Linked DNA regions of Homo sapiens. The protein of the gene in region 3 purifies or fractionates together with the protein of the main gene of each other region. This does not show direct contact. Each region holds a gene or a part of one and is shown on either strand. Other genes may lie near its edges.

The links.
Region 1: the proteins of DIPK1A (region 3) and POMT2 purify together in Homo sapiens (co-immunoprecipitation; 2 studies listed by BioGRID and IntAct, with this or other methods). This does not show direct contact.
Region 2: the proteins of DIPK1A (region 3) and CACNA2D1 purify together in Homo sapiens (co-immunoprecipitation; 2 studies listed by BioGRID and IntAct, with this or other methods). This does not show direct contact.
Region 4: the proteins of DIPK1A (region 3) and LRRC8A purify together in Homo sapiens (co-immunoprecipitation; 2 studies listed by BioGRID and IntAct, with this or other methods). This does not show direct contact.

What each region holds. Positions count from the first base shown.
Region 1 is NC_000014.9:77,296,621-77,303,904, reverse strand, and holds part of POMT2 (protein O-mannosyl-transferase 2), read left to right. Parts: intron 1-961; coding exon 962-1,070; intron 1,071-2,655; coding exon 2,656-2,815; intron 2,816-4,343; coding exon 4,344-4,450; intron 4,451-5,133; coding exon 5,134-5,216; intron 5,217-7,284. UniProt on the Homo sapiens protein: Transfers mannosyl residues to the hydroxyl group of serine or threonine residues. Coexpression of both POMT1 and POMT2 is necessary for enzyme activity, expression of either POMT1 or POMT2 alone is insufficient.
Region 2 is NC_000007.14:81,957,700-81,964,983, forward strand, and holds part of CACNA2D1 (voltage-dependent calcium channel subunit alpha-2/delta-1 isoform 1 preproprotein), read right to left. Parts: intron 6,661-7,284; coding exon 6,508-6,660; intron 6,410-6,507; coding exon 6,357-6,409; intron 4,797-6,356; coding exon 4,741-4,796; intron 4,325-4,740; coding exon 4,195-4,324; intron 2,131-4,194; coding exon 2,021-2,130; intron 1,659-2,020; coding exon 1,576-1,658; intron 1-1,575. UniProt on the Homo sapiens protein: The alpha-2/delta subunit of voltage-dependent calcium channels regulates calcium current density and activation/inactivation kinetics of the calcium channel. Plays an important role in excitation-contraction coupling.
Region 3 is NC_000001.11:92,846,254-92,853,537, forward strand, and holds part of DIPK1A (divergent protein kinase domain 1A), read right to left. Parts: intron 4,703-7,284; coding exon 4,595-4,702; intron 1,107-4,594; coding exon 930-1,106; intron 1-929.
Region 4 is NC_000009.12:128,906,133-128,913,416, forward strand, and holds part of LRRC8A (volume-regulated anion channel subunit LRRC8A), read left to right. Parts: intron 1-1,024; 5' UTR 1,025-1,032; coding exon 1,033-3,189; exon of another isoform or gene 3,190-3,808; intron 3,809-3,911; exon of another isoform or gene 3,912-7,284. UniProt on the Homo sapiens protein: Essential component of the volume-regulated anion channel (VRAC, also named VSOAC channel), an anion channel required to maintain a constant cell volume in response to extracellular or intracellular osmotic changes.

The DNA.
Region 1 (7,284 bases), on a different chromosome or scaffold from region 3:
AGTCTGAGAGGATACACTGATGAGTCACTCTGGTCTCATTGAGCTTACCTCATCGTGGGGCAGACAGTAAATAAACAAGTAAATGAATAAGTCTGTCATGTGATGTCCTAAGCCACAAGTGCAGTGTAGAAAATAAAGCAGTGTAAGGGATGGAATAATGGAGATCAGTACTATTTTAGACAGGATAGTCAGGAAAGAGCTTCTGAGAGGGGAGCTTTGAGCAGAGACCTGAGTGAGACAAAGGATCAGGCCCTGCAGGGATCTGAGGGAAGAGCATTCAGGCAGAGGGAAGTGCATGTACTGTAGTTCTGGTGTGGACCTCTGTGGGTTCAAATCACAGTAAGAAGGCTGGCGTGGAAAGGGCAGAGTGAGTGAGGCAGAGGGTGTTGGGAGATGAGGTTAGATGGGTAGGGAGACCGCACAGACTCTGGCAGTTGTCATGAGAACTTTTTACTTTGAGTGAGGTTGGAAGACATTGGAGGGTTTAAGCAGGGGCATGACATAATGAGATTTAAGGATTTAAATTAAAAAACATCACTCTGCCATCTGTCTGGAGAATCGACCCCCAAGAGAGACTTCATGTAAAATGATAAGATTCTATCATAGGTGTAGATAGTTTGCGGTTACATGAGCAGAGTGGTAGGACTCCCTTTTTGATGGTGGAAATGAGGATGACACCTTGTCTCAGGGCTGGTCTGAGGGAGCGAATGACATGATCCTCTCTTGGGTTGAGGGCCTAGAGGCAGTGTGAGTTACTGCTTCTTGTCATTGGGCTTTGATGTCTCCCAGAGCTGTGGCCTTCTACCTCCCTGATGACTCAGTGTTGACTCTAGTCCTGACTGCACAAGTGCTTACACTCAATTAAGTGGCAAGAGGGACTGTTTCCTACTACTGGGGTGCTTGGTTTTCAGGGGGCCCTTCTCTTACCTCGCTTTTTCACCAGCGAGCTCATGTTTTTCAGACACGGGATGCCTCACTCTGTCCCAGTACATCCTCCTTGACCCCATCCTGATGTTCTTCATCATGGCTGCCATGCTGAGCATGGTCAAGTACAACTCTTGCGCCGACAGGTCAGAAACTCCATCCCCGGGAGGGGAGGGTTGGAAGCTGTGGCAACTCCAAAATTTCTGTAATGGCCAGGGCCAGGGCGGGTGCCCAGAGACTTGTCTTGAAGCTGATTTTAAGGCAAGCATACTTTTTGTTTGTTTTTTTAACTTAGATTGTCCATTTTAGATCATAAAAATAGATTTTAAAAAGTTTTCTACAGGTGATTTTATTTTTGCCATATTCAAGACCGAGAAAATGTCAGTTGTCTTTTTCAAGCGTATTATTATTATCATGTTTACAATGGAGTACAATTGGGTAGGGGTTTTGGGATATCATGGGGGGTCCTAATACTTTCCCCACCCACCTCTTGTAACCAGTGCTGGTTAGGAAATCCCGGGACAGGGCTGTCCTTCACATACTCTGTCCTAGAAGGGAGGGCACCAGGGTAGATGCTGCCTGGAAACTATCTCCCTTTCGTCAGTGGTTGCATCCAGTCCTGACCTAATGATGGGAATAGCATATGTAAAGGTTGGCTTGAATGGTCCATACCAGCCAAGAGGATCCTTCCAGGTCCTGGTCAGTTCTAAAGCTGACTTGGAGGGTCCGGTCTACTTGCAGAATAGTCTTTTCCAGATCATCCTTCTACTTCTGAGAAAGTAGAATAAGTCATTCATTCTATTCAAACCAGAAGAGTTGGCCCCTCGTAGGCTTTTCTGGAAGTTAACTTTGCACAGCCAGGCTCATTAAGCTCCATTGTGCTAATCAAACCTGATCAGTGACTCTCAGCCCACTCTGGCTTTGGTTGTTGTGCTTATGCCACATCCACTTCCATCTACCATTTCTTGAGTACATACTGTGTACCAGGTACTATGCGGGGAGCTGGAGGTACTGAGCTCTGTTGGGCTTGGCTGTTAAGGAATATTCACTCTGGCAGAGGAGGCAGCCAGAGAGCCAGAGAATCATAGTGTAGAGTACTAGGTGCTATACGAATAGCAAAATGGTTAAGAGCACTAACATTGACCCAATTGCCTGGGTTAAAACTGTGCCCCACTGCCTGCTAGCTGTATTACTCCACCTCTCTGTATCTTGATTTCCTCCTGTGCAAAAAGAGGACCTAGTGACAGGATCCTCTGTGTGCTGTAGTGACGGCTAGAAGAGTTAATATATGCATCGTACTTGGAATGATGCGTGACGCATACATAGTAAGCACTCGGTAAATGCTGCCTTCGACAAGGGCAGAGGTGACACAAAGGAGAGGGCTGCCTGAGTCCAGGGGCACCTAAGGATTCTCCTTTTACTCCTGCCTGACTGGTCACTTGTGAAGAAGGAGCCCCCACTTACCCTGAGCCCTGTACTTAGCCAGGAGCACTATGGACACTCTCCCCTGAAGAATACCCTGCGCCCTCAGACAGTGCTTTTCCTGCCGTTCCAGGGGTTTCACAGGCCGCCTCCTCCATGGAGCCACGCCATGGTCCCTTGAGGCTAAGAGCCCCCAAGACAGGGCACAGCACAGCCGCTCCAAGTCTGAGAACTGCCCTGTCCCCTGCTGCGCTTGCGTTTGGCTTTGGTTCCAGCTGCCAAATTGAACTCCGTCTTGTTGATTTTCAGGCCCTTCTCTGCCCCCTGGTGGTTCTGGCTCAGCCTGACTGGCGTTAGTCTTGCTGGTGCTTTAGGGGTCAAGTTTGTTGGCCTCTTTATCATCCTTCAAGTGGGGCTGAACACCATTGCAGACCTTTGGTACCTGTTCGGAGACCTCAGTCTTTCATTGGTGAGCACCCAAGGGTTTGCTGTGGAAATGTTTTTGCTCCCTGATGTTGCTGAGTAGGAGCTGGTGGCCTTCTCTGTCTCTACTGCAGGTGGCAGAGTGGCTGTGTTCTGGGTCCCAGGTGGGCTGGACCCCCCAACCTCCGCAGACAGCAGGACATCAGGGAGTGGGCCCGGCTGAGGACTGGATAGGGTTCAAGGGAGAGGATAGATTAACATTCTTGGAAGTCTCTTTTTGCATTTGTTTTATAATGTCTGTCTTTTTTTTTTTTTTGAGATAGAGTTTCACTCTGTTACCCAGGCTGGAGTGCAGTGGGCCGATCTTGGCTCACTGCAACTTCCGCCTCCTGGGTACGAGTGATTCTTTTGCCTCAGCCTCCCAAGTAGCTGGGATTACAGGCACATACCACCATGCCCAGCTAATTTTTGTAGTTTTAGTAGAGATGCGGTTCTACCATGTTGGCCAGATTGTTCTCAAACCCCTGACCTCAAGTGATCCGCCCGCCTTGGCCTCCCAAAGTGCGGGGATTACAGGCATGAGCCACCGAGCCCGGTCTGAACTCACAATTTTCATTTCCTGACCCACGGTCTCCATATTTGGAGGCCAGTAAGGGCCTTTACAGTTTATTATTTATTAAGGGCTGATTCTATGCCAGGCACTATGCGAAACGCTTTACCTTCATTATCTCATTTACCCCTCATAATAGTCCTATGAGGTAGGGAGTTATTACCCTGATTTTCAAATGAGGAAATCAAAACCTACAGAGGTAATGACTTCCCCGAGGCCATCGGGGAGTGAGAGGTGTATCTAGGAGTCACAACCAGGTTAGGTTGGCCCCAGGCCATCACTCTGCTGTGGTGCTGCTCCATCACCTCCAAACCAGCTCCTAACAAGTTTATTCATTCATTCATTCATTTATTCAGAAAATGTGTAAAGATCATCCAGCCACTGTGTGTGAGGTGCTGGAATATACAGATGAATATAATATGGTCCCCACCCTCTGTGGTCAATGGAGAGAGAGAAATAAGGAAGCAGGCAGTTACAGTCAGCCAGGAGTGCTGGGAGAGCACAGAAAAGGGCACTCGGCCAGTCCCAGGCAATCCAGGAAGGCCTCTGGAAGGAAGCCGCGAAGTTAAGATAAGGAGCCATTAGCCATGTGATGGGTTGGGCTGGGACAGTAGAGGAAGCACTGGGAAAGTTCAAGGAGGTTAGTGTACCTGGAACATGGAGCGGACTGGTGAGCAACTGTGTTGCAGATGCAGGTGCCTTGTCCTTGGCACAGTAACATCCTGGGGTTTTGGGTGTAGAGCCTGGAGAGGTAGCAGAGGGCTGGCCCATGTTTATCTTGTGTAGTGCTTGGGTGGTGGGTGTTACAGAAAGGCTTAGGGTTTCCACATATTCTTCTCTCTCCTCTTGGCCATTTTTTATGATTATGACTGATATATTAAAAGCTATATATAATGCATGCATAGTGCCTAAGGAATAATGAGGTCTCACATGCCTAGCACCCCACGCTGGCCTCTGTTTGCAGGTGACTGTGGGAAAACACCTGACTGCTCGTGTCCTGTGCCTCATAGTGCTGCCCCTGGCTCTCTATACAGCCACCTTTGCTGTTCACTTCATGGTGCTGAGTAAAAGGTACAGACAGAGCCTTTGCAGCATCTTGCTTCTGGTTTTCCTTTTGCTCCTAAGCCTGTGGAGGGGTCGGATGATTTTCTGGGTCTGTGGTTAAAATGATAGGTGAGGGACCCCAGGGGCTTTTTCCTGTTTCTTTCCTGCTATGTTCTATCCTTTGGGTATATGCTAAGGGCTCAGAAAGGCCAGCACCCTAACCTGAAGGAAGAAGCTATTTTCGTTATAGCCAAATTGTCCCTTATCTCTAAACAGAGTCCCCTGTACTTAGCAAGGATAGGCCACAATAAGATGTGCAGTAGGAGTGAGTGTAACAATAACAGTAACTCCGGCGGCAACAGCTCCCACTTAATGAGTAGCTACTGAGAATCAGGAACTGTGTTCCGCATTTTGTACACATTATCTCATTTAATCAGAATCACTTGTGACTTCTCTTGGTTTCTTTAAATCTCTAGTTTATAAATGAGGAACTAAGGCTAAACAAGGTTATCTTGCCCAAGGTCGCACAGCTAGTAAGTGGCTGAGTTGGGATTTGGACCCCAGTTTCTCCAACTCCATCACCCACCTCTGTCCCATGATCTGATTCTACTTTCCTTAAACTATCTGAGCAGAGCTCTTCCCAGCGCTCCTGGGAAATCACACTTTCACTCCTTTAACTTGACTCTCTTCTGCTCTTCCTCTCCCCACAGTGGCCCTGGTGACGGTTTCTTCAGTTCTGCCTTCCAGGCCCGGCTTTCAGGGAACAACCTGCACAATGCTTCCATCCCTGAACGTGAGTGTCTCTGGGCCATTACAAAGGTAGAAGGCAGAGGGGTGTCCTGGGAGTTGAATTGGAAAAGACAAATATGATGGCTTTGGGTTATTTTAGCCTGTGATGGCACGGTGGGAGAAAGACCCAGATAGATCTGGTGAAAATACTCGAGAGTGAATCAGGACAGAGGAGAGGAAGACATCCTGAGCAGCAAGCTCTCTGACCCTAAAGAATGACTTCTCCTTGGTGGCTCTCCAAGCCAGCTCTGTGGGAAGGTCACTCAGAGAGAATATGGTGACAGCACCAGGCCCTTCAGAGCCAGTTTTTGGTTTCCCGCACCGCTTTCTGAGTGTTGCATTCGTTCATCTATGACAGATGGTAGTGGAGCGCGTGCTCACCCTCCAGAGATGGAGCCTGGTGTAGAGGAGCTCCACACGGTGTGGCTGGAAGCGTTAAGTACGTAAAGAGGGAGCACAGCTCTGGGGATTGACAGGCGTGAAGGAGCATGGCTGCTGGGCGGTTAAGGGCATCAGAGGTTCGTGATGTGGGTTGCCTTGGAGTCAGGCCCTGGAAGAATGTGTGGCTTTCAACAGAGGAGAGGGCATCTCAGGCAGGAGGGATGACATGATCAAAGCTGAGGACAGAGTAAAACTTGAGGCACAGGTATATGCAGAAAACTACTGGAAGATAAATGTGAAAAGTTAGGTTGGGCCCAGACTATGAGGGTTTGAGGTGTCTGGATGAGGTATTTGACTTCCTAAAACAGGCCGTGGAGACCTAGTGGAGGTCTTTGAGCAGCCAGGAGGCCAGGAAGGCTGTGCTATAGGGAGATGACATGGGTGGGAGAGTCGAGGCTGGCTGGGGAGGGGACAGGATTGTAGGCAAGAGAAACCCTCTGGGAAGCTATTGCAGGAACCTGAGCTGGGTATGGTGGGGCAGCCACAGGGTAAGGCAAATGGGCATATACAAGGGAGATCTGGACACAGCAAGAGAGGAAGAAAGATGTCACTAAGGACTTGAGTGCAGGTGATTGCTTCCTGGAGGCAGAGACTGCATCTTACTCATTTTAGTCTTTCCAGGACTTTGCACAGTGCCTAAAATACAGCGGACTCTCCCAGACTGGGAAGAATGAGAAATAGGGAAGCAGGAGAAGAAGTTGGGTTGGAAGGGCAGATACTGAATTCCACGCGAGAGGGGTTGATAGTGAGCTGCTTGGGGAAATTGTTGCCATGGGGCCAGTGGGATTTGGGGCTGATGCTTTCAAAGGAGGAATCAGACAAGTAAAACGGTAATTGATGCTGTGGCAGTAGCTGTGATTTGTAAGGAAACTGTAGAAAGAGGAAAAGAATAGAGCTGAGGTCAGATCACTGGGGAATGCAAGAGGAGGAGGAATTAGGAGAGGAGACTGCGGAGGAGCAGCCCTTGAGAGAGTGTGCGGTCGAGAAGTGGGAACAGAGAGCATTTCAAGAAATAAAGGTGGTCAGCCATGTGCAGGGCTGCCGAGGTTGGCCTGCCTGAGAACTCAGAAGAACACAGCTGTGGAGTTTAGCAAATTCCTGCTCATTATTTAAAGGCCTAGTTCAGCTGTCACCTCTTCGATCAAGTCGTCCTCTCTTTAATCCTTGGGAGAGAATTTGGCCTGTTCCGAGTTCCCACCATTCCCACCATGTCACACATTGTCACGCCTTTGTGGGGCACTTGCCCACTGTCCTATACTTGTCAGTGTGTGAAGCCATCTTCCTTGTAGACAGGGCTCTTCCAGGGCCACAGGCAGGCCTCCTCCACCTTTGGATCCAGTGTGTAATTCTTCTGGTCCACTGAATGAACAAAGAAAAACAGGAGCAGGTCATTCCAGCGGATTGGAAGAAGGACAGTATTAAGGAAAAAAGGTTTCTCAATAACTCAGGGCCTATAGGAGCAGGGGATGCTCTTGAGAAGTGGTTTTCTGTGTTTTTTGTTTTTTAATTCAGAGTAAAACAAAACACCATTGAACAGTTATTTCATATGGTACTAGATTCAAAAGGCACGAAAGGATATAGAGTGAAAAAAATGGTTTGTCAAAATGCTGTATCTTGGAGAACATTCCAGG
Region 2 (7,284 bases), on a different chromosome or scaffold from region 3:
ATAACTCCACTGCTAAAGAAACACAAGATATTATTAGCACACCAAGCTACTGAGCAACAGTTGTACTTTCACACACAACCCATTTATAGGAGCTTCAATTGCTGAACATTTTTGTCTTGGTCAAATCCTTTTAATGGCTTGATCATAAGATATAGCCTCCTAGAATAATATTTTGGGCAATAGGCTTTTAAGTCACTTTTCAAGTTCATCTGAATTTAATATTTCTAGTGTCAAAAAACTGGTGACAAATAGTTGATGAGCGAAGTTTCTCTAATGAGTGACATGACCCTTGGCCCTTCATAAAACATTCTTTGGGGGAATAATTTTACATGGGCAACGTGCTGAAGTTGCAGTAGACAGAATAACAGGAGTCCGCCTATCTGGACTTAATATATCTTAAAAAGAAAAAAAAAACGCTTAGTTGCAATGTTGAATTACTCTCCCTAGCAAGGATCAATAATCCCTCACAGAGATAACTGGGATTGACTGGCTAATACATCTTTCATTTTTAGTCCCCATTACTGATTTTATTACTTCTTTGTGCTATTTTTAATTTATATTATCTAATTGCATAATATTATCTGTGAAAATGTTTTGTCCTTTCTGGGACAAATGCAGCTATGTATTTGAGTAGGTAAACTAAATAACTCAAATAATTTATGAGATAATGCTTTACAAGTTTGGATATTCATTGGTGTGTGCACACACTGAAGAATCAGAATTAGGAAGTATTGTATTTAAAATTAGTTAAAAAGAGGTAGACAGAGATTTTTATGTAGACTTCATCTTTGAGAATAGATTAATATTTCTTAAGAATTTTAAAAGCATAAAGCTAATGTAGTACATACTGATGACATATTACCTACCTTGTATATAATCAATACACAGTAAATCAGAATAGTATTTATTAGAGAAAGATAGCTGAACTATAGGAAAAGTAGTAAGCCATCTTTAAGTGACATATATTAAATATGATTTGTAATATTTTATCAAACCCTATGTAATTGACCTGGTCTAGTTTCAAACACTAGAAAAAGAAATTAGTACAATTAAAGGAAATAATAGAAGTCTAATATGTGATAGCATCAGAAACCATCCAAAAGAAACTAGAACTCTGTAATAATAAGACAATGGCTGTATAACAGGTTTTTCAATTCACACTAGAACTCTGTAATAATAAGACAATGGCTGTATAACAGGTTTTTCAATTCACTGAAGACAAATATAACTAACAAAAATATAATAAAATTAACTTTTATATCTTCAGGATTGGAATATAAATGGAGGCAACAAATATACCATAATTAACATTTACTATGAGTTAAATTGATTGGAATTGTGTTTGAAAGCACAATTTCTGTGGGAAGGACATATAAAAGAAGCAACTGTCAAGTTTATGCTAACCATGAAAACTACTGAAATGAAAAAAATCTACCAGCAAGTATGTCATGTTAATGAGAAAAACTATGGTTAAGACATTACGTTTGAGTTAAAATTGCAATTTGTATCCTTGAATTCTTGCGGACAGTGACCATTAATTTATAGTATTTTAATCCAGTAGAAGTGTGATCTTACCAAGACATTGTTATCAAAGCAGACATCAGGCCCTTTTCGGTATCTGGGTTGCTTAACCATGTCACAAGGATTTGGACCGTCAGCTAAAAGAGACTTGTTAAGGAATCTCATGTTAGTTTTTTTCACATGATTAAAAATAAATACAATGCAATGTATTTCCCAAAACATGTGAGAGAGATAACTTATACATCATTACTCTCATCCAACACAATTCAAGTACATAGGGATTTAAAGAACTAAATTGTGAATTATCCTTTTCTGGGGCATGTGTAGCATAATTATTCTTGACATTCCAACCAAATTTTGAGTGAGGAATCGATTCTGCCTTTGCGAGGTGATCAGAGCAGTCTAATAGTTTTCTCTTTATGAATATAAACAATGTGACAAGATTCAAAATGCATTAAGATGGTTTTCCTTTCCAGATAGCTCTGATGTCAAAGGATACAAGTCTGCTCCGCTTGTATGAGCAGTCGTGTGTCACATGGACATGTCCCTTTGCTCTCAACCATTATGAATATTAAGTTGGTGTTCATAAGCTTTTCTCCATGAAAGATTCTGCAAAATAAATATGGTATCATAGAAAATGAGTATCTTTTCCAAAATAAATGGAAATCTTTCAAAGATTCTTACATATTAAAATGAAAGACAAAATATGACATCTGAAACAGAAACCATTCCCAGCACAATAGGAGTATGATTTTAGAAGAAAAAAATGCTTCATTTATTAGCATGAACGTATTACCTATGTCAAATGAATAAAAAAATTGCAATATATGTTTTATGTGTGACCATTTTAAAGTATTAATCCTCATTGCAAAATAAGCACAATTTAGTTGTTGATGTACATAGAAAAAAGTTTTTCTTTACACATACAAAGAATTGTGATGCTTATGCCAAAGTTGCCTTATTTTACAGATAACACAACAGGGAATACAAAAATGTCTAGGCATCTTGCCCAACCTAAGGGCAGAGAAAAGTCTGGAACAGTGCTATTAAGCAAACTTTCTGTGAAGATGGAAAAGTTGTTCGCACTGTCCAATATGGTAAATACTAGCCACTCGAGGGTATTGGGCACTTAAAATGTGACAAGTGTGACTGAGGCACAAAATTTTAATTCTAATTAATTTAACTGTAATTGAAATTTCAATAGCCACCTATAGGTGGTAACTACTGCACTGGGCAACACAGACATGGACAGAATCAAGGGTTTTGAATTCCATCCCCTGTTTTGTCCACACCTTAAGCTGCTCTTACTTTAGTAACCAACATAAAAAATGTAAATATATCACTAAAAAAGTAATTTCTTTATCATTATACATTTTGCAGAAAAGTGGGATTTTCTTTTTGCCCTGTTAAGCTTTGATTTCCATAAAGCAAATCAAAAGGAAAGTATGATGCAATTTAACATCTTGGTTATACTGACCTTCTTCACTTTACAATTTAACTTACTTCTTTAAGCACACCAATTGCTCTTGCTGGATGTCAATTAATAAAAGGCCAATGTCTGTGAAACTCTGATGTATCCAATAAACATGCCACAATCCCATTTCCTGAAGTCCATAGCCTGATATGCTAATCTCCTCTAAACAAGACAGTCTGCTTTTTTTCTGAGTTCATGCTTGACTCTTCCTTCCCTTTCCTCTCCTCTTTATATACTCTACCTCCTCCTTGGAGATAGAGGTCTGCTAAAGAAAGTCATAAAACATACTGACCACGTCTCCTAAAAATTCATGATAGGTTGCTTAGCCCCTCTTGCAAAATTTTTTTTTTTAACTATTCTGGCACTTTCATAATCTCAGATTACCTCACCTCCTCCTATTTCTTCTTCCGCTATGGTAACATTTCTTCTAGAATAATCTTCCCTCCACCTCTAAAAACAAAGTGTCTCTACTCTGTGCTTTGTAAGCTGTGACTTGCTGCTCTCCTCTCAGGAATCCTGTGGCATTAATTATTACTTTCCCCTCAAAATCCCCATCTTGCCTTTCTCCTCTACCCTCATTACAACAAAATTAAATTCTCCATCTCTTTTTAAAAGATATTTTATGGATACTGACTAACATTAACCATGACCTAAAAAAACTGTATTTTTCCCAGTTCCTTCAAATTCAAATAAAGATAACATTCAGTTCTTCAAGTCAGAGAAGACTAGAAGTAAAAACAAAACAAAACAAGACTTTTTTTTTGTAAATCTGTTTAGTTACTATATAGAAAAATAAATAATATTTGGCTTAGAATTATTTAAATTACTAATATATTTAATAACTTTATATTAGAAATTTTTAATATGGGTTATTTTAGGAAAAAAAGTTAAAATATAATCAAATTTCTCTATGTTCTGCCTAAAGAGAAAGGAATTATCTTGATCATGTAATTATTATAGTTGAAGAAATAACAGCTTATCAAAGTTAGAATTTTAAAAATTACAAATTTTAAAAGTCTACAGAGAAACTAAAGATTGCTGACATTTTCAGCTTAAAACAATTACTCACATCTCTGACTCCAACACAATTTTCAGTTTTTTCTGTAATGATTATAACAGTATATACAATTTCTTAATGATTATAACAGTATATACAATTTCTTAATGAAATAGGACTACTCCTGAAATAAATAAATTACCTGGAACAGTTTCCACAGTCTAATACACCACTGAATGATTTACTGTCGTTATCGAAGAAATACTGGGTTTGTTCAGTAATGCAGCTCTGCTTGGACAGGGAGGCCGTGAAGTCATCATCCTCCATCTCAACTTGGGTGGCGGGGGACGGTGTAAAAACAAAGAACACCATTAGGAGGGGTCTCTGTAGTCACTCCCCTCGAGTCTTCACTTCTCACAGAGCAAAATAAACGTATAAGACCAGGACCCCTCGACTGGCTTGTTTACTGCTGTGTAATATCGTGGCAGCCCGTAATAGATGCCTGATAAATATCAAGAGAATAAATGAATTCAAATACAAGATGGCTATGAGATCAGGCCCGTGTGACCTAGGTAATTTCTAAAACATTAGGAAAGGTTGGACAAAAAGTTTCTAGCTCTAAAATTATGAGATGGGTGACCTGTTTTCTCTTTCACACAAATATTCTCTGAATTTGTTGAACTTCAAGCACATCCCAAAAGAAAATTTTTATTGTTATGGCAATGACAAGGTCTGAGCATTTACATACCTGCCTCAAGGAGTCGTGGAAAGGTCAAACTCAAGAGAAACTGCTGTAGAATAGACCTGAATTTTTCAAATAAAAAAAAAATAAACATCTAGGGAAAAAATGTGTTTTTACATGTACCCATACACATAAATACTGTTTCCCTTTATCTTTTTGGGAAAGAAAGTCTTGGAGTGTTTTTATTTAAGTATTTTCAAAATTATATAACACATTGTAACCTTTTTGTAATGTGTAAAAGAAGTCATGAAATCAGAAGTGTTCAGATCTTGTTCAGGATCAAGTGGGACACAATGTGTGAAGAAACCTAACAGGCAATGTTATCAAGCAGAAGAGTTCACTCTAAGAGGGAGAATGTCTGTTTCAGCGCGTAGGTTTTCACATTCATTACGTCTCCTTATTTTAGTTTTTAAAACCATTTGTTTTTTGGGTTTCCCCCGCCCCCAACAAAGAAACAATGCTGTTTATACCATGGGTTTGAATTTGTTAACTATTTACTTTGTAATATAGAATATATTTGTAAATATGTAATGTAACTTTCATGAAACAAAATATACATATTAGAGAGATACAGCACATTTCAGTTTTACAGTAACTGACAACTGAGCCAAATTTCTAGAACTGAATTTAGTTTAAAAAAAAGTGGGGGTGGGAGGGGATATAGGATAAAGCCAAGTATTTCAGGGTCATGATGAAATTTTAAAAGCCTACTGAAATTAATATATAAAATCACATCAGAAAATACCATTTTTCAGAATAAAACAGAATTTTCTAAATCTTTTAAAAACTCTCAAAATTTTAAAATCTTTTTTGCTGCTTTAATGATATAGTCACTTAATTTTAGCTGGGCAAACCTCAACATCAAATGAATATTGTACATTAATCTACATGGAATAGGGCTAACAATACAGTGTGATGATACAAAAAAAAAGATTAGAAGGGAGAGAGGGAAGAGGGAGATCATGGATTCCAGACGTAACAGGAGGTTTAGTTACAACTAAACAATGAGAAATGTGATCTTCCAGACCTTCCACAGTGCCACAATTGACCATTTAAATGTCTTATTTTCATAGGTTGTAGGGTCTACAGGTGAGGGTTGAGGGAGGTTTGGAAGGTAGCATCAGTGAAAAGAAATAATTAGATCCATGTCGGCAACCTGATGCCCCTAAAACAATACTAGTCCTTGTATCAATAGTAAAGAGGTAGAAGGTTGCCATCATGCCATGAATTTGATGCATGTAGACATCCAACTGGGATATTAAAGACAAATTGTAACTTCTTACAGATCAATACACCTAAAAGAAATTAGTGTAATGTTTTTATAAATATTTAATACAAATGAAAAGAGTTTCAATAGATATGTAGAGGAAGGAAGACTCTAAAGAGGCTGAAGTTTACATCCGCATAACATTGTTTTCATATGAGAAACTGAATAATGGTAACTTTATAGTGTTCACTTAGGAAAAACTATAAATATTACCAATAGGTGATGTAAAGAATGAAAACAACTTAACTCCCTTAATAAAAATTTGAATATCCCCTAAATCCATATTTTCATCAGATGCTTTTTTATTTTACAACTTCTTTCTTTCATTACCAATAAAACTAAAATTTTGACTTACCAGGCAGCAGCAGTGGCCCACCAGCCAATTTGTAATATGTCTGCTACTGATGGCTATAAAATAAAATAATAAGGTCATTTCAGTAGTCTACTTGATACTGAGGACACTTGAGTACCCCTTGAGAATTGATTAGACCGTGGATATTACTGACCACATATGCTGAGCGATGTCCTGCTCCTTGTTTTGGTGCAGCACCGGGCTCACATACTGACTGATAATCATAAGATTTGTTAAAAGCATAAACTGATATATTAACCAGGTGTCTCATCAAGCTGGGATCAATCTCTCCAAAAAATCTTCCAATCTGGTGAAGAAAAAAATCATAAAGCAACGTGCACTTAAAATGTAAGCCAAAAATGAACACGGGAATCACCACTACAGTGAAAAGAAATAATACAAAGAAACTGAACTACAACTGAGGAGCTTAAAAACAAAAGCAAATGAGAAACGTGTATATGACACTGTGAACAAACTAAAATGAGAGTAAGTGTTCTCATTACTCAGTGGGGCTGTGTGATATTTTATTTGTGGAAAGAATGGACACACATTACTAAGCATTAAATCACAATCAAATGCTTCCCAGATGAATAAAACAGGGCCGGGGAATGGAGAGGTATAAGTGGAAGGGTACAAAGAAGCAGTTATGTAGAATGCATAAGCCTAGAGATTCAACATACAACAGAGGACTGTAGTTAATAATACTGTGTTGTCTACCAGAAATTTGATGAGAGTAGATTTTAAGTCTTCTTACCATACCGCAAAAAAGGTTAACAACCTGAGATGATGGATATGTTAATTGGCTTGACGCAGTAATCACTTAACTATGCAAATCAAAGCTTTTTTTTGTACACCTTAAACATATACAATAAAAAAAAGATCAAATGCCCCCCTGGGGAATGGAAAAGTGGCATAAATGAGAGAGCAGGCT
Region 3 (7,284 bases):
ATTAGCATATTTATGTCTCAGTTATCATTGTGTTGTGAACATTCACAATCCTTTTAGTTTTTTGAAAATAACCAAAAATTATTAATCCCTTTACCCTATAGTGCTATAGAACACTAGAACTTATTCTGCCTATCTAGCGGTAATTTTGTATCTGTTAACCAACCTCTCCTTATTCTCCTCTCCTCTGTACCCTTCCCAGCCTCTAATAGCCACAATTCTAAGAGTATACTCATTTTATTTCACCTTTTTTGAATTAATTTTCATGTCAAACTGTACAGCACTCCAATTAATTAATGAACTCCCTCCTCATATCTGGACATTTTTAGCTATCATAAATAATGTTAAAGTAAACATTCTCCAACACAGATTTCTTTTCTTTTTCTTTTTTTTTTTGAAACAGGGTCTCACTTTGTCGTCCAGGCTGGAGTGCAGTGGTGAGATCTTGGCTCACTGCAACCTCGACCTCCCAGGCTCAAGCAATCCTCGCACCTCAGCATCTCAAGTAGTTAGGACTACAGGCACATGCCACCACTCCTGGCATATATATATATATATATATATATATATATATATATATATATATATATATGTGTGTATATATATATGTGTGTATATATATATATATATATACACACACACGTATATATATATATACGTGTATATATATATATATATAGCTGAGGTCTTACTATGTTGCCCAGGCTGGACTTGAACTCCTGGGCTCAAGTGATCCTCCTGCCTTGGCCTCCCAAAGTGCTGGGATAACAGGCGTGAGCCACCACGCCCGGCCTCTTATAATTATTTCCTCAGGATGGAGAATCTGATAGAGGTCAAAGAATATCAACACTTTAATGGCTTAGGATGAGGTCCTGCCAATTCCTCTAAAGAGTCCCACTTCACACTAGCAACATATGAATGGGTATGCTTACCTTAAAGAGACTATAGACCATTTCTTTAAATTTTTGTACAGTAGTTCCTCTAGTTGGCTTATCAAATAGCACTATTTCTTTTCTTGGTTCCAATTCAGTTCCAAAATCAAGATGAAGCGCTTGTTCCATTTGACATTTCACAACACCTGGTAGATTATCCCAAATCCCTAAATACATCTATGTAAAAAAGAGTGGCAAGTTATGTATTATACTGAGTAGAAAACTCTAAAAAATATACTACTATATTTTTAGGGTCCTCCTCCTCTGAACAAAACAAAACAAGCATCAAACATTGAGGTTAAGGTGTGACTTTATTTCTGAACTGCAAACTTGAAATCACACTCAAGATTTTTTCCTTAAACTAATTTTTTAAATTATAAGAGTAATGCATGCCTAAATATATTTTTCAAAAAGTCCAATGAGAAGGATGTAAGGCAAAAGCAAAGTTCCCAGACATTCTACTTCCATAATCCCACTTCCCCAGAATTAACTACTATTTAAGTATCTAGTTATTTATCAAACTAATATTATATAGTGTTAACTATGTCCTATGGTCTACTAATTTATTTTAGAGACAGGGTCTTGCTTTGTCACCCAGGCTGGGGTTCAGTGGCATAATCATAGCTCATTGCAGCCTCAAAGTCCTGAGCTCAAGGAATCTTCCTGCCTCAGTCTCCCAAGTAGCCAGGACTATAGGCATGTACCACTAAACCTGGCTAATTAAAAACATTTTTTGTAGAGATGGGGTCTTGCTGTATTGCTCAGGCTGGTCCTGAACTGCTAGCCTTAAGTGACCCACCTGCCTCAGCCTCTCAAGTTGCTGGGATTGTAGGTATGAGGCACCACACCTGGCTTTTACTGATTTATGTTATTATTTTAATCCTTGTACCAATCTTAGGTGGTAGGTACTATCATTATACTTATTTCACTGATGGGGAAACTGAAGCAGATACAGGTGAAGTAACATGCTGAAAAGAGCTGAGGTCTTTACCACTAGGATAGGTTGCCCCTCTTCTACATAAAAAAATAAATAAGATCATATTCATTCTTAATATTAATCCAAAGAAAACATTATTTCACTGCCTTGCTCCAAACCCTCTAATAAATTCCCCTTTCAATTAAAGTCCAAAGTCCTTTCCATGACCGGTTGGGCTCCATTTGAGCTAGCCTCGCCTATGTCTCCAACCTGATCTTGTACCACGTACTCCGTTTCTCAAAGTCCCAGCTACACTGGTCTTTCTGTGACAGGTTGAAGCTTGTTTCTGCTTCCTGACCTGCTTCACTTGCTGCTGGCTCTGCCTGGAATGTACTCTCCCAGATCTTCACATGGCTGGCTCCTTTACATCATTCAAGTCTCAGATTAGACATTGCATTTAGAAAGCCTTCCCTGACCCCCTGTCTAGAAGAGATCCTCTTCCACCCCCAGGTCACCTCTAACCCTGTTTCATTATCCTCATAGCCTTTTGCACTGTCTAAAATTATCATATTTATTTATTTATCAGTTCATTACTATCTGTCTCATCTCACATTAGAACATGAGGCCAGAGGCTTTATCTGTCTCCCTCAGTGCCTCAAACAGTGCCTGGCATGCAGGAGACACTCAAATGTTGGACTTTGTTTTAGAAATTGTCTTTAACATGATTAATACTGTCAACTGAAAAATTAGTTTAAATTTCTATAATAATAATGCATATTTATATAGGAAAATTTAGGAACCATAAGATGAACATTAAAATGCAATTTTCCACTGCTCCAGATGTTTCGTTGTATTTTCTTCTACCCCAATTAGATATTCTACTGTTTTATTCTTATTTCTCTGATGAAAAGTAAGGTAGAATTTTTTTTCATTATGTTCATCAGCTGTTTGCAGTTCTTTTGTGATTTAGTTCATCCTGTCCTTTTCCCATGCCTATGAATTTTTTATTAAGGTATAAGTTCAAATATTATTTCAGAAAGGTCTTCTCTGATCACATCCTCTAAAGCACTTCTCACCATCCCTTACACTGCATTCTCTATCAATTTGCCCTCTGTGTCTCCTACAGAACACACCATATTCTACAATTATTTTGTTTGTTTATTTATTTATTTATCAACTGTTTGTACCTCCTGTCCCTCTGGAATCATGTAAGGTCTGTAAGGGAAGCAATCTTGTCTGGTTTTTTTTTGTTTTTTTTTTTTTTTTTGAGACAGGGTGTCACTCTGTCACCCAGGCTGGAGTGCAGTGACATGAACACGGCTCACTGCAGCCCTGACCTCCTGGGCTCAAGTGATTGTCCCACCTCAGCCTCCCGAGTAGCTGGGACCATAGGTGTGTGCCACCACACCCAGCTAATACATATATATTTTTTGAGACAGTCTCGCTCTATTGTCCAGGCTGGAGTGCAGTGATGTGAGATCTTGGCTCACTGGAACCTCCGCCTCCCAGGTTCAAGCGATTCTTGTGCCTCAGCCTCTGGAGTTGCTGGGATTACAGGCATGTGCCACCACACCCGGCTAATTTTTTGTGTTTTTAGTAGAGAGGGGGTATCGCAATGTTGCTCAGGTTGGTCTTGAATGCCTGGCCTCAAGTGACCTACCGCCTCAGCCTCCCAAAGTGCTGGGATTACAGGTGTATGCCACTGTGCCTGGCCACCCAGCTAATTTTTGTATTTTTTGTAGAGACAGGGTTTTGCTATGTTGCTCAGGTAGGCCTCAAACTCCTGGACTAAAGCAATCCACCCACCTTGGCCTCCTGAAGTGCTGGGATTACAGGCCCGTGCCACGGGCCCGGCTGTTTGTATTTTTTTATTTTTATTTTTTATTTTTTGAGACACTCACTCACTCTGTCACCCAGGCTGGAGTGCAGTGGTGGGACCATAGCTCACTGCAGCCTCAACCTCCTGGGCTCAAGCAATCTTCCCACTTCAGCCTCCTGAGTAGCTAGAACCACAGGTGTGTGCCACCACACCTGGCATTTTTTTTAAATTTTGGAGAGACAGGGTCTCACTACATTGCCCAGGCTGGTCTCAGACTCCTGGGCGCAAGTGGTCCTCCCATCTCAGCCTCCCAAAGTGTTGGGATTACATGCGTGAGCCACCGCACCAGGTTGCCTTAATCACCATTGTATTCCTGGTAACTGAAACAGCATCTAACATCAAAGTGCTGACAGAAAAAAAAAAACAAAACAAAACAGTGTCTGGAATATACTGGGGATAGATTAATAAATATCTTTTGACTGGCCAGGTGTGGTGGCTGACATCTATAATCCCAGCACTTTGGAAGGCCAAGGCGGGTGGATTGCTTGAGCTCAGGAGTTCGAGACCAGCCTGGGCAACATGGCGGGACTCTGTTTCTACAAAAATACAAAAAATTAGCCAAGTGTGGTTGTGTGAGCCTGTAGTCCCAGCTACATGGGAGGCTGAGGTGGGAGGCTCACTTGAGCCTGGGAAGTGGAGGTTGCAGTGAGCAGAGATCTCACCACTGTACTCCAGCCTGGACAACAGATCCTGTCTCAAAAAATTAAAATAAAATAAATGTCTGTTTAATGAATGAATCAAAGCATACAAAATTGAAATACATATAATGTCTCAAAGCTTTGGTTCAAGAATTCTTTTAATAATGCCTTTAATTTCTGGTAAAATTAGAGTACACTATAATTCTGGAATGTTTATTCATAATGGCCATACCTGATTGTTGGGCTTGGTGGATAAACATTTTCCAAAGTAAAGAGTTTCTGTAACACAAAGGCTGTTACATGCAGGCCCATCAATAACTCCAGTCTTGTACTTGTCACACTAAAAACCAGGAAATAAAAAAGTAGTTAATAGAAAAATATTCACAAGAAGAAGCATAAAGAGATATCTATATCCTTTATGAGTAAGTTCTATGACAAAAAGAACTGAGGCTTTGGACTTAGACAGACCTGGATTTGATCTAAGCTCTGTTACTTATACCTATATGATTATGAGAAAGCTTGTTGCTGCTGGGGTGTGCGTAGAATTTTGAAACTATTTTTCCCACATGACATGGTCTAAGGTGGTATGTTACCTACTCCTTCCAAGAATAGAGGCACTCTATCTTTAAAAATGGTTCCGGTTTTAGGCCAGGCACCGTGGCTCACGCTTGTAATCCCAGCACTTTGGGAGGCCGAGGCTGGTGGATCATTTGAGGTCAGGAGTTCGAGACCAGCCTGGCTAACATGGTGAAACCCCATCTCTACTAAAATAAAAAAATGAGCCAGGCGTGGTGGCGGGCGCCTGTAATGCCAGCTACTCGGGAGGCTGAGGCAGAAGAATCACTTGAGCCTGGGAGGCAGAGGTTGTGGTGAGCCGAGATCATGCCACTGCACTCCAGCCTGGGTGAGAGAGTGAGACCCTATCTCAAAAAAAAAAAAAAAAAAAACTTCTGGTTTTAAAATAAATAAAGTTTAGAATAACAAAATAAAGTTACCTCTGTCACATTGTCATCCTTGAGATCACCCAAAAACAAGAAAGGGAAAAAAACCCATCCACTCTCTGAAAAAATATGGTACCAATGAAACCCTAGGCACAATAAATGAGGATGACCTGCCAAATTCAGTGAAGATTACACCAGAGCCTACAAGTATGCTGAGATTAAACACCTGCTGTGGTCCCCACTCTCAGACAAAGTTGGCAGAGCACCAAGTAGGTGGTACATCTGCAGAGCACAACCATTATCCTGGTTGCAACAAAGATTTAAGGGGCACAAGCTGTGGGAACTTCCCAGAACTCTATTTGGCACCATGAAATAGTAAGATAAGACAGGCCTGAATGATAAAATGCTCAGAAATGTTCTCTTTGCTGGAGGCAGTCTGTTGATGAACTACGGTTGGGAGAGAGGGCCAGAAGCAGCTTCACTACCAGCTCAGTTCACTGCCCAGTTGCTTCCCGCACATGGCTGGCTGAAGGAGACCTCATTTCACTCAGTAATGAGTAATAATCAAAACCAAACAAGCAAAAGATCTATACAGCAAATCTACAAGAATTAGGAAGAATGGAATAGGAAAAGCAAATGTCAGATAAAAAAAATTTTCTAGGCAGGGTGCAGTGGCTCACGCCTATAATCCCAGCACTTTGGGGGGCCGAGGCAGGTGGATCACCTGAGGTCAGGAGTTCGAGACGAGCCTGACAAACATGGAGAAACCCCGCCTCTACTAAAAATACAAAATTAGCTGGGCGTGGTGGCGCATGCCTGTAATCTCAAGTATTCAGGAGGCTGCGGTGGAAGAGTCGCTTGAACCCTGCGGGGGCGGAGGTTGCAGTGAGCCGAGATCACACCATTGCACTCCAGCCTGGGCAAGAAGAGCGAATCTCCGTCTCAAAAAAAAAGAAAAAAATTTCTAGAAGAATGTTGCTATGAAACAGACCAAACATATTGTTATGAATTTAAAGGACTTACTGAACCAGTTTAAAATAAGACTTCAAAGCAGAAGAAATGATGAGGCAATAGAAGGAAGTTTAAAATAAGCTAACAGAACTCAGACAGGAAGGAAAATAAAACATCTAGAAATAAAAGCCACATTATAAATGAGGGGAAAGACAGACAGGGATAAAACACAGTAAGATTTAGGAGGACTAGGCCAGGCGTGGTGGCTCATCCCTGTAATAACAGCACTTTGGGAGGCTGGGCAGGCAGATCGCTTGAGCTCAGGAGTTCAAGAGCAGCCTGGGCAATACAGCAAGACCCCATCTCTACAAATAATACAAAAGAATTAGCTGGGTTTGGGGGCACATATATGTAGTACTAGCTACTTGGGAGGCTGAGGTAGGAGGATCGCTTTAGCCTGGGAGGCAGAGGTTGCAGTGAGCCAAGATCACACGACTGTACTCCAGCCTGGGTGACAGAGTGAGACCCTGTCTTAAACAAACAAAAACAATAACAACAACAAAAAACTTTGGAGGACAAGGTTGAGAAATGCAAGCAAAATGAAATGGAAATTTAAAAATAATAAAATGAATTTAAGATAAATGTATAGATAAAAAAGACAAAGTATATCCACCATGTCCATATGAAGGAGAATGGGAACTGAAGGAGAATGGGAACAAGTGGAAAAGAAAAAATATTCAAAGTAGAATTCAAGGGAAACTTCACATAAATTAAAACACTTTAATCTATAGATTGAAAGGACATACAATGAATGTCCCAAGAAAAACTGACAAGAATGACCCCTGTGACATATCCCACTGAGGTTCACTGGACTTCAAAAATAAGTTATCCTTTGAGCATCCAGGCAAAAAGATCAAGGCACCTTTAAGGGGAAACCAATCAGATTGGCCCCAGATTTCTCCATAGCCACATTCAATAGTAGACAACAGTGGTGCAATGCCAGCGGAGGCTTTGGGGAAGGAAGTGAGAC
Region 4 (7,284 bases), on a different chromosome or scaffold from region 3:
ATGTGGAATTTTGTTGTTGAAGCAGGGTCTCTGTCACCCAGGCTGGAGTACAGCGACGGGGTCATAGCTCACTGCAGCTTCAACCTCCTGGACTCAAGCGATCCTCCCACTTCATCCTCCCAAAATGCTGGGATTACAGGCTAGGATTACAGGCGTGAGCCACCATGCCAGCCCCCATGTGGAATTTTTTTTTTTTTTTTTTTTTTTGAGTTGGAGTTTCACTCTTGTCGCCCAGGCTGGAGTGCAATGGCACAATCTCAGCTCACTGCAACCTCCACCTCCCGGGTTCAAGTGATTCTCCTGTCTCAGCCTCCCGAATAGCTGGGATTACAGGCACCCGCCACTACGCCAGGCTAATTTTTGTATTTTTAGTAGAGACCGAGTTTCACCATGTTGGCCAGGCTGGTCTTGAACTTCTGACTTCAGGTGATCCACCCACCTCGGCCTCCCAAAGTGCTGGGATTACAGACGTGAACCACGTGGAATTTTTAAACCTTGCTCTTTGTTTTATGGAAGTGAGTTCATGTTGTGCCCCCTCTGCATGTTGCTTTCTTTCCTCATATTTTGCGGGAATCCCTCCAGCCCTTTGCTGCAGCTTTACAGCAGCTGGTTCCCAGTGAACTGGGAGTTTTAAATGTGTCCCTCTGGTCAATCTGTTCATTAAATAGGTGGACTTTAGAAAGGAGTTCCCGATTGCTCTTACTGGAATGCAAGGGATGGAGCAGAGAACCCTGAGGCTGCACTGGGGATCTGTCTAATCTCACTGTGCTCAGTCTTCCTGTGTATTAAATGGGGAGCCTGCCTGCCTCCCCCAGGGTGGTTTCCCAGCCAAGTGGCCACATGCTTTCTGCAGAAGGGCTGATAAGTGGGCTGCCCCGTGGAGTAGGCAGGCTTTGGCTCCCAGCTAGATTTGAGGTGGAATTTTGGACAATGGAAGAATTTTCATTGTCTTCTTCCCCTGACCCCTGGTCCTAGGAAAGCCAGGCCACCCTGTGCTAACCCCCCTCCTATGGCTCCCTTTTAGGTTGAACCATGATTCCGGTGACAGAGCTCCGCTACTTTGCGGACACGCAGCCAGCATACCGGATCCTGAAGCCGTGGTGGGATGTGTTCACAGACTACATCTCTATCGTCATGCTGATGATTGCCGTCTTCGGGGGGACGCTGCAGGTCACCCAAGACAAGATGATCTGCCTGCCTTGTAAGTGGGTCACCAAGGACTCCTGCAATGATTCGTTCCGGGGCTGGGCAGCCCCTGGCCCGGAGCCCACCTACCCCAACTCCACCATTCTGCCGACCCCTGACACGGGCCCCACAGGCATCAAGTATGACCTGGACCGGCACCAGTACAACTACGTGGACGCTGTGTGCTATGAGAACCGACTGCACTGGTTTGCCAAGTACTTCCCCTACCTGGTGCTTCTGCACACGCTCATCTTCCTGGCCTGCAGCAACTTCTGGTTCAAATTCCCGCGCACCAGCTCGAAGCTGGAGCACTTTGTGTCTATCCTGCTGAAGTGCTTCGACTCGCCCTGGACCACGAGGGCCCTGTCGGAGACAGTGGTGGAGGAGAGCGACCCCAAGCCGGCCTTCAGCAAGATGAATGGGTCCATGGACAAAAAGTCATCGACCGTCAGTGAGGACGTGGAGGCCACCGTGCCCATGCTGCAGCGGACCAAGTCACGGATCGAGCAGGGTATCGTGGACCGCTCAGAGACGGGCGTGCTGGACAAGAAGGAGGGGGAGCAAGCCAAGGCGCTGTTTGAGAAGGTGAAGAAGTTCCGGACCCATGTGGAGGAGGGGGACATTGTGTACCGCCTCTACATGCGGCAGACCATCATCAAGGTGATCAAGTTCATCCTCATCATCTGCTACACCGTCTACTACGTGCACAACATCAAGTTCGACGTGGACTGCACCGTGGACATTGAGAGCCTGACGGGCTACCGCACCTACCGCTGTGCCCACCCCCTGGCCACACTCTTCAAGATCCTGGCGTCCTTCTACATCAGCCTAGTCATCTTCTACGGCCTCATCTGCATGTATACACTGTGGTGGATGCTACGGCGCTCCCTCAAGAAGTACTCGTTTGAGTCGATCCGTGAGGAGAGCAGCTACAGCGACATCCCCGACGTCAAGAACGACTTCGCCTTCATGCTGCACCTCATTGACCAATACGACCCGCTCTACTCCAAGCGCTTCGCCGTCTTCCTGTCGGAGGTGAGTGAGAACAAGCTGCGGCAGCTGAACCTCAACAACGAGTGGACGCTGGACAAGCTCCGGCAGCGGCTCACCAAGAACGCGCAGGACAAGCTGGAGCTGCACCTGTTCATGCTCAGTGGCATCCCTGACACTGTGTTTGACCTGGTGGAGCTGGAGGTCCTCAAGCTGGAGCTGATCCCCGACGTGACCATCCCGCCCAGCATTGCCCAGCTCACGGGCCTCAAGGAGCTGTGGCTCTACCACACAGCGGCCAAGATTGAAGCGCCCGCGCTGGCCTTCCTGCGTGAGAACCTGCGGGCGCTGCACATCAAGTTCACCGACATCAAGGAGATCCCGCTGTGGATCTATAGCCTGAAGACACTGGAGGAGCTGCACCTGACGGGCAACCTGAGCGCGGAGAACAACCGCTACATCGTCATCGACGGGCTGCGGGAGCTCAAACGCCTCAAGGTGCTGCGGCTCAAGAGCAACCTAAGCAAGCTGCCACAGGTGGTCACAGATGTGGGCGTGCACCTGCAGAAGCTGTCCATCAACAATGAGGGCACCAAGCTCATCGTCCTCAACAGCCTCAAGAAGATGGCGAACCTGACTGAGCTGGAGCTGATCCGCTGTGACCTGGAGCGCATCCCCCACTCCATCTTCAGCCTCCACAACCTGCAGGAGATTGACCTCAAGGACAACAACCTCAAGACCATCGAGGAGATCATCAGCTTCCAGCACCTGCACCGCCTCACCTGCCTTAAGCTGTGGTACAACCACATCGCCTACATCCCCATCCAGATCGGCAACCTCACCAACCTGGAGCGCCTCTACCTGAACCGCAACAAGATCGAGAAGATCCCCACCCAGCTCTTCTACTGCCGCAAGCTGCGCTACCTGGACCTCAGCCACAACAACCTGACCTTCCTCCCTGCCGACATCGGCCTCCTGCAGAACCTCCAGAACCTAGCCATCACGGCCAACCGGGTGAGTGGCCCGGCCACAGCTCTGCGTGTGGGCTGGCGGGTGGCCTGGCCAGGGCTTGTGGTGGGGCACTCGGCAGGCTCAGTGTCCTGGGACCGTCGATGCCCCTGAGTGTGGAGTCCTCACCTGGGGTTTACAGAACCATCCAGGATAGAAGCTCTGTTCAAGAGACAGACTCCTTGGGCCCCATCCCAGGCCTGCTGAATCCGAATCTCTGGGCCCCGGGCCTGTCTTTGCTCCAAAATGTTGCAGTTCTCCTGCCTGGAGAGACTGCATGGCCAGGCAAGGTCTGTCCCCCAAGGTGACCTTGAGCCGGGTTCCTCTTCAGCAGGGATGTGCTTGGGCAGGAGGTCCAAACCCGGGGGTTCTCTCGCAAAGCCGGGTGGTGGGAGTCAAGACTTAGCCTGGAGTTTGTGTCTTCCTCAGCTTGTTCCCAGTCGGACTTGGAGGCAAGGAGCCAATCCGGGTCCACCCAGGACAGAAACTGTGTGGGTGGCCAGTGCTGGCTGAGGGGAAGCCTTGGATGGTCTCTGCAGCTCCCACACACCTTTCTCCACTGCATTTGGTGGTGTCAGAGGCAGAGTTGGGCCTAGATGGGGCTAGTTTGTTTCTGCCTGCCCTTCTGAAAAGGAAATTGTGCAAATCATTGTCACTGGGAGTTTGGGAGGCCACACCTTCGACATACTTTCAAGACTGTTGGTGGTCTGTGGGTGCCAGTCTCTTACCTGGCTGGGGAAGCCCCCATCCAAGGGCCCCTTGGTGGAGGCAGGCAGTGTGGATGGAGGGCTGGGTACTCCTGTGGCTCTGTGGTCTGGCCTCCGAAATGGAAACAAAGCCACTGCCATTGTGGGGAACGTCCCTCTTCCACCCGTCCTGGGGACCTGCAGGTTTTCCTGGGCCTCACATCCAGGTGGAGATTCCTGTAGTGAGACATGTGGTGGAGGAAGCCTGAGGCCAGGCGCTGGGAGACAAGGGAGAGCCCAGCCAGCCACCCTTCTGCCCCCGACACAGCAGCAGCTGTCGTGCCGGGCCCCTGTGAACTTCACTAGGGATGCCACCAGGTTCAGGAGGCTGAAGAAGAGACTCGGAGTTGACCAGGCCCAGTGGGTCAAACCTGTAATCCGAGCACTTAGGGAAGCCAAGGTGGGGCGGTCACTTGAGCTCAGGAGTTCGAGACCAGCCTGGGCAACATAGGGAAACCCCATCTCTACCAAAAATACAGAAATGATCCAGGCATGGTGGCATGTGCCTGTAGTCCCAGCTATTTGGGAGGCTGAGGCAGGATCGCTTCAGCCTAGGAGTTCAAGACTGCAGTGAGCTATGGTTGTACCACTGTACTTCAGCCTGGGCAATAGAGTGAGACCCAGTCTCAAAGTAAAATGAAGAGCCCTGGAGCCGGCCATTGAAACATGGGGTTTATTTGGGGGAACTTACTTACAGGGTGGTCCAGCAGCAGTGAGCCAAATAGGAAAACCACTCCTGCTTATAAAAAGCGTGCAGCTCATAGAGCATTTTCACTAAGCACCCTCCCCTCTGCAGCCTCCGTGTGGCAACCCGCGTTTCTTAGTTCGGTTGTTGCTGTTGGGTGCATCTGCCATGCAGCAGCCCCACGGTGCAGTCCCTGTTGGTTTCGTGGGCACCTGCTCTGTGTTCGCCCTGTGCCAGGCATGATGCACCTGTCCTCCTTCCACCAACCTGCTGAGTCCTCCCAACAGGGTCTGTCTATAGCATCCTCAGGCACGGAGGGAGGTGGCCCCTGGAATGCCCGGTCTGTCTATAGTATCCTCAGGCACGGAGGGAGGTGGCCCCTGGAATGCCCTGTCTGTCCTCCTGGGCCCCAGGACAGGACACACCTTCTCCAGCATCACTCAGACTAGATGCTTCAGGCCCTCCAGATGCCTGCTGGCTTGGAAGCCTTCCTCCCCTCTTCCCCAGGGCTCCCTTACTGCAGAGCAACCTGCAACCCACATGTATCAGGGATTTTGACAAGTCCTTATCTCCGGCCACCCCATATTATGACTTGAGCACAGTGGGAGAGTGGACCAGGGCAGGGTTTTCTCTTGTAGTTTCGGGACAGGCCCACTGAATAGGAAAACTGGAGTCCCCTGGGGAGAAGCCACATTTGGGAAGCACAGAACAAACCCAGCCCTTCTTTAATCTGTGGAGGGGGAGACCCTGTGGCTTCCCCATAGCACAGTGCTGCCCTTGATAAGCTGGGACTTCCTCACAGCTCCTGCCATTCCTGCCCTGTCCCGGGTGCTGTGCTGGGGCTGTCCTCCTGGTTGGGGGAGGGTTCAAGCCTCCAGCCTGGCTCCCCATCCTGTCCCCCACCCCCAGCTCCTCCCGCCAAGCTTGCCTGTTAGTGTCATGCCTGCTGGCTGAGGTCACCCCTCAGGAAAGGAGCTGGCGGCAAGCACGCTGTCCCAGAGGAAGGAGACCCTCTGGACACCCTGTTTAGCACATGGCTTAATCACATCCTGTCCCCACCCCCTGGAACACCAGAGCCTTAATAGGGAAAACAGTTCACTTGGGCCAACCCCAGGCAGGCCCCTCATTCTGAGTGGGAGGCCTGAGCCCCTCTTCCTCCTCACTCGGGCTTGATGGCTCCTTCTCAGCCACCTTGGCCAGTGGTGACCAGGAGGGGTGGGCGTGGCCTGCCCACGCCCTTGCGTGCTGTTTCTCCAGATTTATACTCTTGCTAATGAAAGCCTTGACAAGACAGTATTCATTCGTTCACTCGTTTACTGATGTGTGCAAATTGTTATGTTTTGTTTGTTTGTTTTTTTGGTAGAGACAGGGTCTCACTGTGTTTTCTAGGCTGGTCTTTAAACTCCTGGCCTCAAAGCCTCCCACCTTGGCCGCCCAAAGTGCTGGTATTACAGGCATGAGCCACTTCGCCTGGCCTTTGTGCAGATGTTTTTTGAGCACTTCTAGAATCCAGCTATGGAGCAAGGCGCCGGGGACATGGGGATGAAGAAGGCCAAGTAACGAGGCAGTTAGCACAGTGCGTAGGCGCTCTGCTGGAGCACCAGGTCCCTGGGAACACAGAGGAACAGGCCCCTGAAGAACGAGGAGGAGGAAGCCAGGTGGAGGGGAAAGGGACAGTCCAGGAGGTTCTGGTGGGGAGGAGCAGTGAGATGGGCTGCCCAGGAATGTGGGCATCCTGGAGAGCAGAGGTGGGGCTATGGGGGGGGGTGTGGATGGCAGGGGGGTCCTGTCCTACACCTCAGTTTCAATTGTCTCTTCATTTGTTTAACAGCCGATCCCTTGCCAGCCCATAGGCTCTGATGACTAAGACCTAGCTCTTTTGTTCAAGCAAGTGTTTACCGAATTCCTAGTGATTGAGTGGGTGAAGGAATGAGCTGACTTGCAGCGTGAGGTTCCTCTTGCGGTAGTGTGTGGGGTGGGGTGAGTGAGAGGTGGGAGGTGGAAGAGAGCTGTTAAGAGACCACGATTAGCCATCAGGTGAGGCCACGGGGCCTGGCGTGGCCAAGGCAGGTAGGGATGGAGAGACATGGACGGATCTGGGAGACGCTGGAGGGGGAATTCAAAGGGACGGGAGTTGATGGTGGGGGTGGTCTGAGTGACTTGAGCTTTTTTTTGTGGATTGTTGAGACTGGAGGAAGCACAGGTTTTCAGAGGCCAAGGTGTGTCTCATGTCAGGTGTCTGGGGCTCTGGGATGTCCAAGGGACCATCTTGAATCCACCTGAAGCCCAAGGAGTCACCCTTTCCAGGCTCATGGGTGAAGATGGGTCCTTGACTTGCTCACTGTGGAGAGCAGAGAGGGAGAAGGACAGGAGTCTGCAGAAGAGGAGGGCGAGGCCAGAGCGTGGGGCACATGGGGCCTGGGGAGTTGGCTGGATTAGGAACTGGTGACTTTGGCCAGAGAGTTAAGGGTGGACAGGGTCATGGAGGCAGAGTGAGGAGAGAGACAGCGGCTTTCCTGCAGTTGGTCAGGAAGGCCAGAGAGCCAAGGACAACGCTGGGGCCCTGGAAGCCTCCTGAGAGAGTTGTCCTTTTCAAAGATCAGGTCGAGTTGAGGCCTTTCAGTGCCGATGGGGACCCACTGAAGTCTCTGGGGAGGTAGGAGAGGGTGC